Homo sapiens: one gene and its partner. The protein of the gene in region 2 purifies or fractionates together with the protein of the main gene of each other region. This does not show direct contact. Each region holds a gene or a part of one and is shown on either strand. Other genes may lie near its edges.

The links.
Region 1: the proteins of PCDHA11 (region 2) and LONP2 purify together in Homo sapiens (affinity purification with mass spectrometry; one large-scale study listed by BioGRID and IntAct). This does not show direct contact.

Annotation. Positions count from the first base shown.
Region 1 is NC_000016.10:48,268,238-48,272,059, reverse strand, and holds part of LONP2 (lon protease homolog 2, peroxisomal), read right to left. Parts: intron 2,045-3,822; coding exon 1,786-2,044; intron 1-1,785. UniProt on the Homo sapiens protein: ATP-dependent serine protease that mediates the selective degradation of misfolded and unassembled polypeptides in the peroxisomal matrix.
Region 2 is NC_000005.10:140,867,135-140,871,756, forward strand, and holds the start of PCDHA11 (protocadherin alpha-11 isoform 1 precursor), read left to right. Parts: upstream 1-1,822; 5' UTR 1,823-1,969; coding exon 1,970-4,360; coding exon of another isoform or gene 4,361-4,402; exon of another isoform or gene 4,403-4,466; intron 4,467-4,622. UniProt on the Homo sapiens protein: Potential calcium-dependent cell-adhesion protein. May be involved in the establishment and maintenance of specific neuronal connections in the brain.

The DNA of each region.
Region 1 (3,822 bases), on a different chromosome or scaffold from region 2:
CATGTCACGTGCTTATGATGTCAATTTCACATAGCATTAATTCCACGAACTCACTCTCTAAATGCCATCAAATACTTACTCTGTAGCTAAAATTAGAAGATTTAGGCCCTAGACGCAGCTTCTTTGAGTTTGGTCCAAGAGAAATGCCAATTCCTTTACGAAAGCAAACTATAGCCTCTAGTGGTACATGCAAGAATAAGAAGTCTAGGCAACAAAAATATCTTTTGAAATTGCCAGAAGAAATCACCCAAATCAATTCTCTACTCTGATCTGCACGCCTCATTGTTTATTTACTAAAATCTTGTGATGAGTCTTTTTTAAAATTTATTATTATTATTTTTTTAGAGATGGGGTGTCACCAAGTTGCCCAGGCTGTTCTTGAACTCCTGAGCTCAAGCAACTGCCTGCCTTGGCCTCCCAAAGTGCTGGGATTACAGGCATGAGCTACTACACAAGGCCAGTAATGATACTTTTTAAATGCGTAAGAATTTTAAGTGAGCAAATAAAAGAGAATAAAAATAACCATTTCTTATAGAAAAGTTTCTGAAACAGTTTCCCATCCCTGTCTATGGATAGGGATCCCTTTGAATAAGGCACATAGAAAACAAGATATTAAAAAAGCATCATATTCTTTTATAAGCAGTTCATGGTTCCTACATTTAAACATGTTCTTTAACACATACACTATAGGTATGTTTTCTCACAACTTACAATTGCTATGAATCCCTTAAACCACGAAATGTAAATTCATGCTTTCCCAAGGCAATTTCCATCAGATCAACAAAGAGACCAGTGAGAACAATGAATGCAACATGCAAATCTGATTCTAATAATGTCAGATTAATCAGAAACAGTTTTGTTGTTGTTTGTTTGTTTGTTTGTTTGAGATAATGTCTCTGTCTCCAGGCTGGCGTGCAGTGGGACAATCATGGCTTACTGCAGCCTGGACCTTCCCAGGCCTAAATGATTCTCCCATCTCAGCCTCCTGAGTAGCTGGGACCACAGGTGCATGCCACTGTGCCTGCATAATTTTTTAATTTTTGTGGAGACAAAAATTAAAATTTAAAATTAAAAAATTTAAATATAAATTTTGTAGAGACAAAAGTGTTTCCCTATGTTGCCCCGGCTGGTCTCAAACTGTTAGGCTCAAACAATCCACCCACCTCAGCCTCCCAAAGTGTTAGGATTACAGGCATGAGCCACTGTGCCCAGCCTAGAGGGACAGTTCTTACAGTTTATTGTTTTTTTATAGAAAGTGAGTCCAAAATGCAAGAATAAGCCTTAATAATTATGCTAACATTTATCCTTATTACTCATATTCATAATACAAACCAACCTTCATAAGAGGAAGTTTAGACTGCAATCAGAACAAGTTTGTTATCAAAGACTTCTCACCTCCTCCTATTGGCCCTCCCTATTGCAGTTACTTTTTTTAACTCTGAGAGTTAGGGATCATTATTTATGGCATGCTACTGGGTTGAAAAGAGTGTAAAGACATAATAATATCCAATCATAAATAACTTATAATTACATTCAAATGAGATTCCAGGAAAGTTGAGGCACAGAGTAGTATCCACTGTCATACAAATCAAGGTTAGTTTGGGTTTATCATTACGCTTAGAGGCTCTAGGCTAGCTGATACTTCTTGTAAATGTCCTTTTCATTCAAGGTACCACACATAGCCCTTTAAGGAAAATAGATGTATGCTATGCCTAAGCTTTTAGGGAGCTCTAGTCAATTAAAAAGAAAGAGGAATCAGAGATTAAACTGAGAGAAGTGTTCTACCTGTGTCCTCGAATGTCAGACTGATCACATACTCCTCCAAGTGCAATCCTGTGGAACTCTCGACCTAGAGTCTTGGCCACTGATCTTCCCACACTTGTTTTACCAACTCCAGGAGGGCCAACAAAGCATAGGATTGGGCCCTTCAGGTTATTTTTGAGCTGTCTGACAGCCAAGTATTCCAGTACTCTTTTCTTCAATTTTTCCATGGCGTAATGGTCATTATCCAGAAGAATCCGGGCTGCCCTAATGTCCAGGCGGTCTGTCAAATAACCCAACAGAAATAATTAGAACACATAAAATTTTTAAGTTAAAGAACTCCTTTCAAGCATGACGAGGGCAAAATATTTTTTTTGAAAATAGATGTGATAAGAACAGACTTGGATCTTTCTAGATGAGGATTCTAGGAGATCTGCATTTGGTTTGGTTTCTCTGCTTAAGACTTAGTGTCCCCAGAGATAGTAGGCACTACACAATTAAAAACTCAATGTTCATATCATTTTATTTGGAATGATTTTCTAGTTATGCATTACTTCTTAATTTCTACATATTGTATGTGTGCTGGCATTTGTTTTTTAAAAAAAAGGGTGATTTTTTTCCTTATTTCAGTAGTAACATATGTTCATTCCAGAAAACCTGATAACACTAACAGAAAAGAAGAAAACAGTTACCCATAATCTCATGCCCCCAAGAGATCACCACTACCTTTACTTCAGTATGTGTAATTCCAGGCTGTGTGCGTGCATTTACAAACCTATTTTTCAAAATGGGATTTTATGGGGCCTTTAAGTTTTGTAAAATGTTTTTTTCACTTAATATATGACAGACAACTTTCACTGTCACACATATATTTATCAGTAACATTCTATGGTTACTTAATGTTCCATTACTAAATTATCTATATTCATTTAACTAATTCCCTACTGCTGAGCATTCAAGTTGTTTACACATCTTTACATTTATAAAAGATGCTTCAACTGTGCATCACTGGAACTAAATCTTCCCATATATCTGCAATGATTTCTTTCAGCTTATCTTCTATGAACAGAAGTGCTGGGTCAAAAAAAAAAAAAAAAACAGATGATGTAAAGAATTGCCTAATTGCCACACAGAAAGTTGTATCAAAGTCTCACCAGAAGTGTATGAGTTAGGCTTTGTTTCTAGAGCCAAGCTTTCAACAGGTTTACTAATAAGATTTAGCATTTAAAATACTCAGATTAAACACCAGGTAACAGAAGCCAAAATGAATTCACTAGCTGGGTGGCTGCCAGGGTATAATACACAGCCACCTGATCATGCTGGCAGTGAAAGAAGAAGATGGGAGAGAGAAATACACAGAAATCTTTTAATTAATTAATACATATCTTTTAATTAATTATTTAGAATTTGCTAAGGATATTTCATAAAGGAAAAAAATGGCCTGAGATGGTAATTTGGTTCCCAAGCTAGTCCCCCAAAAAACCTAGCTAAGCAGTAAACTATATAATTTAATTATAGTACTATTGATTTTAGTCAGAGTCCTAGGTGAGTGAAGTAGGAGAAGAACAACTAAAATTTCTTCCCCCTTTCCTGGCTCCAGAACCCAACCAATGAATATATGAAGAAGTGAAAGATAGAGAGTTTCTCAATTGTTTCACAGTGCTAGCCCTGACACTAAAACCTACCACAGTAAACATAAAAGAAAACCTCAGACAAATCTTTTTATATAGCTGTAAATATTAAAATGCTAGTAAATCAAATCTATAAAGAATAATATACTAAGTCCCAGTGGGATTTATTTTAGTTATGCAAACATGGTTCAGTGTTAGGTCATCAATGTCATCATGTTCAAGAAGAGTAAGTTTCCATCAAAATATCATCTTGTACCTAAAAAGGTACTTGTTATAATGCGTTATCCATTCATGATTAACACATTCAGTAAGGTAAGAATAAAAGTCAAGATAATTTAGAAAAGACTGAAAACACTGTGAAGAAATTTCTTGCAAGAAATATGCCAAGTAAAGACAATTTTAAAAGTTCTTTCAATCTTTTAAGTAAAGG
Region 2 (4,622 bases):
ATTATCATTTTTCCAGAGTAAACCTTCTAAGGTTCATTTCCCTACCTCGCAAGACTCCACATTCCATGTAACATCTTCATCCCCAATTCCCATAATAAGGTGATTGAGGATCTGTTGTTTCCTTTTGTTCAAAATAAACCTGATGTGCTTCAAATATCATGTTGAATATACTGTCATCTGGTCTAATGTTATGTTTTGATTAGAGGCTACTATGATTGATTATTTTACAGATGCGTAATGGAATTAACGGTTATAAAAGTTGATATGTCTCCTTTAATTTTTTAATACAGAATTTTGCATTTACCTGAATTAGAGTTCTAGTGTTATGACAACATTGGGAAAAGAGTAAATATGAAAAAAGTAGAACAAAATCTCAAATTAATAGTTGAATATATATATAAAATATTAGCATACACATATGATAACTTTTTCATATGCCCTTGCAGTATTTTTAGATTGGAGATAAACCATCAAAACTATAGAACAAAATATTTAAGCTAGAGTGATATTTATTCTAAATCACTTTCTACTCTAAAATTTTGTTGCATCTTCTTTTTTTCCTCCTAAATCCTAAGGGTATATGAAAAGACAAAGAAAATTCAAGCAAGTTACAACTTCAGGCAAAGAAAACTCTCATAAGCAATTCCTGTATTTTACTTAGCATTTTCTATGAAATTCCATTTCCACAAGCACTAAGGTAATTTACCATTTAGTTGAATTGTTTGATTAATTTTCTATGTTTTAAGCACAATATCAGGTACTTACAGAAGGTATAATTAAAAATCACTTCCCTTGTTTTCCATGAACTTCTGCTCCCAAACCCAAAATTCTTTCAACAAGAAACAAACTATTTTCATGAATATAACTGAATTAGATTAAGGAAACCAATGTTGGTGACTTGGAAATACCAATATGGCACAAAGATGTTCAGGGTGATTTTATTTATTTTATAAAATGATAATAAAATTTATTTTATAGTTGAAAAGCCTATTTCTGTCATATCATTGATTCTGTTACATAAAGTGCTAAATTTTGATATCTCATATTATGCTACTATGGCTTACATTAGAAATAATATATGTCAAATAAAAACTCATCTAGATCAATAGACTTTTCCTTTGTGGATTCTTTTTTAAAACTACCAAGTTTGAGAATATGAATATATTTGTTTTTCATATTGTTCTGCAATGAATATAAAGTCACTTATAATCAGAAAGCAATTAAATGTAAATAACAGTAAAGAATGAGAACTATAGAAAATAGATATGAAAATGCAAGCCCACAGAGATGAGAATAGATCATGTGGAACATAAACACTAAAGAGCTGCTTTTATAAAACTTCAATTTTTTCTTTGAGTTCCCTAGCAGCCAAAGTAACAAGGGAGACTGAAAGTAAAACAATTCAAATTTGATAGTATTTTTATATGAGGAACAACACTTTCAGGAAATGTTTAACCCTAGTTTTTCATGAGGCCACCTTAACAACTGAATTCTCTTTCTCTCTCACTCTGTGTATAAGTATTTTAGATAAGTAAAAGAACAATGTTATAATGTTAAGTCAAACATAGACACAATAATTTAAATTTGATGTTAATCGAGAAATACAATGCCATTTCCATATATATTTAGTTTCAATATGACTTATAATCTGAATATTCCATAAATAAGCACGTTGGAAATATTTGGGGGAAGAAACCCAAAACACGTGAAATTCTGTGGTGGTAAATGCAGTGCACAGTACTCACAGTTTTAGGCGCAAGGTGTCGCTCTTTACTTGGTGGAAAGTTCATTTAAAGGTTGGTCTGAACAGTGAGGCACTCCCATACAAAGGAACTCCATCATACCGGATGCCACCGTTTAAGGATCCTTTGAAACTTCTTAAGAATTCAACGAGATTTTTAACCTGAAACTGAAGAATCTGGTACTGTAAGTGTAAAGAAGCTTATTTTGGAAGCCAATTTCGTATGCGATGTTTGGTTTTCAGAGAAGGGGATTGGGCACCCCACGACTACAGCTCTGGCTTCTCCTCCTCGAATTCTGGGAGGTGGGGAGCGGCCAGCTCCACTACTCCGTCTCGGAGGAGGCCAAACACGGCACCTTCGTGGGCCGCATCGCGCAGGACCTGGGGCTGGAGCTGGCGGAGCTGGTGCAGCGCCTGTTCCGGGTGGCGTCCAAAACACATGGGGACCTTCTGGAGGTAAATCTGCAGAATGGCATTTTGTTTGTGAATTCTCGGATCGACCGCGAGGAGCTGTGCGGGCAGAGCGCGGAGTGCAGCATCCACCTGGAGGTGATCGTGGACAGGCCGCTGCAGGTTTTCCATGTGAACGTGGAGGTGAAGGACATTAACGACAACCCGCCGGTGTTCTCGCTCAGAGAACAAAAGCTGCTGATTGCGGAATCTAAGCAATCGGACTCGCGTTTTCCACTAGAGGGAGCTTCTGATGCTGACATTGAAGAGAATGCTCTATTGACCTACAGGCTAAGTAAAAATGAGTATTTTTCTTTAGATTCACCAACAAATGGTAAGCAGATTAAAAGACTGTCACTTATTTTAAAGAAGTCTCTGGATAGAGAGAAAACTCCGGAACTTAATTTGCTGCTAACAGCTACAGACGGGGGAAAACCAGAGCTTACTGGCACCGTTCGGCTGTTAGTCCAAGTCTTGGATGTCAACGACAATGATCCAGAGTTTGATAAATCAGAATATAAGGTGAGCCTTATGGAAAATGCTGCTAAAGAAACTCTTGTGCTCAAACTAAACGCCACAGACCGAGACGAAGGAGTCAATGGAGAGGTAACATACTCCTTAATGTCAATTAAGCCCAATGGAAGACACTTATTTACACTAGATCAAAATAATGGAGAAGTGAGGGTCAATGGAACTTTAGATTATGAAGAAAACAAGTTTTATAAAATTGAAGTACAGGCTACAGATAAGGGGACTCCCCCAATGGCAGGTCACTGTACAGTCTGGGTGGAAATCTTGGACACCAACGATAACTCTCCTGAAGTCGCCGTGACTTCCTTGTCCCTCCCAGTACGAGAGGACGCTCAGCCCAGCACGGTCATTGCCCTGATCAGCGTGTCTGACCGTGACTCAGGTGTCAACGGACAGGTGACCTGCTCGCTGACGCCCCACGTTCCCTTCAAGCTGGTGTCCACCTTCAAGAATTACTACTCGTTGGTGCTGGACAGCGCCCTGGACCGCGAGAACGTGTGGGCCTATGAACTGGTGGTGACTGCGCGGGATGGGGGTTCGCCTTCTCTGTGGGCCACGGCCAGGGTATCCGTGGAGGTGGCCGACGTGAACGACAATGCGCCTGCGTTCGCACAGCCCGAGTACACCGTGTTCGTGAAGGAGAACAACCCACCAGGCTGCCACATCTTCACAGTGTCGGCGCGGGACGCGGACGCGCAGGAGAACGCGCTGGTGTCCTACTCGCTGGTGGAGCGGCGGTTGGGCGACCGCGCGCTGTCGAGCTACGTGTCGGTGCACGCGGAGAGCGGCAAGGTGTACGCGCTGCAGCCGTTGGACCACGAGGAGCTGGAGCTGCTACAGTTCCAGGTGAGCGCGCGCGATGCGGGCGTGCCGCCTCTGAGCAGCAACGTGACGCTGCAGGTGTTCGTGCTGGACGAGAACGACAACGCGCCGGCACTGCTGGCGACTCAGGCTGGCAGCGCGGGAGGCGCAGTTAACAAGCTAGTACCGCGGTCGGTGGGTGCGGGCCACGTGGTGGCGAAGGTGCGCGCAGTGGATGCGGACTCAGGCTACAACGCGTGGCTTTCATATGAATTGCAGCCGGCGGCGGGCGGCTCGCGCATCCCGTTCCGCGTGGGGCTGTACACGGGCGAGATAAGCACAACGCGTGCCCTGGACGAGGCAGACTCGCCGCGCCACCGACTTCTAGTACTGGTGAAGGATCACGGTGAGCCGGCGCTGACGGCCACGGCCACCGTGCTGGTGTCGTTGGTGGAGAGCGGACAGGCGCCAAAGGCCTCTTCCCGGACTTTGGCGGGCGCCGCGAGCCCAGAGGCTGCGCTGGTGGATGTCAACGTGTACCTGATCATCGCCATCTGCGTGGTGTCCAGCCTCCTGGTACTCACGCTGCTGCTGTATACGGCGCTGTGGTGGTCGGCAACGCCCACTGAGGGCGCGTGCGCGCCGGGGAAGCCCACGCTGGTGTGCTCCCGCGCGGTGGGGAGCTGGTCATACTCGCAGCAGAGGCGGCAGAGGGTGTGCTCTGAGGAGGGCCCACCTAAGACGGACCTCATGGCCTTCAGCCCCAGTCTTCCTCTAGGTCTGAATAAAGAGGAGGAAGGGGAAAGACAGGAGCCAGGGTCAAATCACCCCGGACAGGTGAGTTTTCTACAGATTCCACCTATCAGGAAGTGTATGTGAAATTATTTAAAATCCAGTTTTTTTTCACGGATTTTTTAAGGGAAAGTTTTATGAATAACCAGTGTTTTGAATATTGTTTTAGATAACAATGTCTGTTCATAAAATACCAAATGATACACATCTTCAGTCTTTTAATCATATGAATAATCTGGCTTCTTTAACCAATAAATGTCCTATTTCTCTTAATATTTGGTTAGCAAATCCTAAAAGAAATGAGATG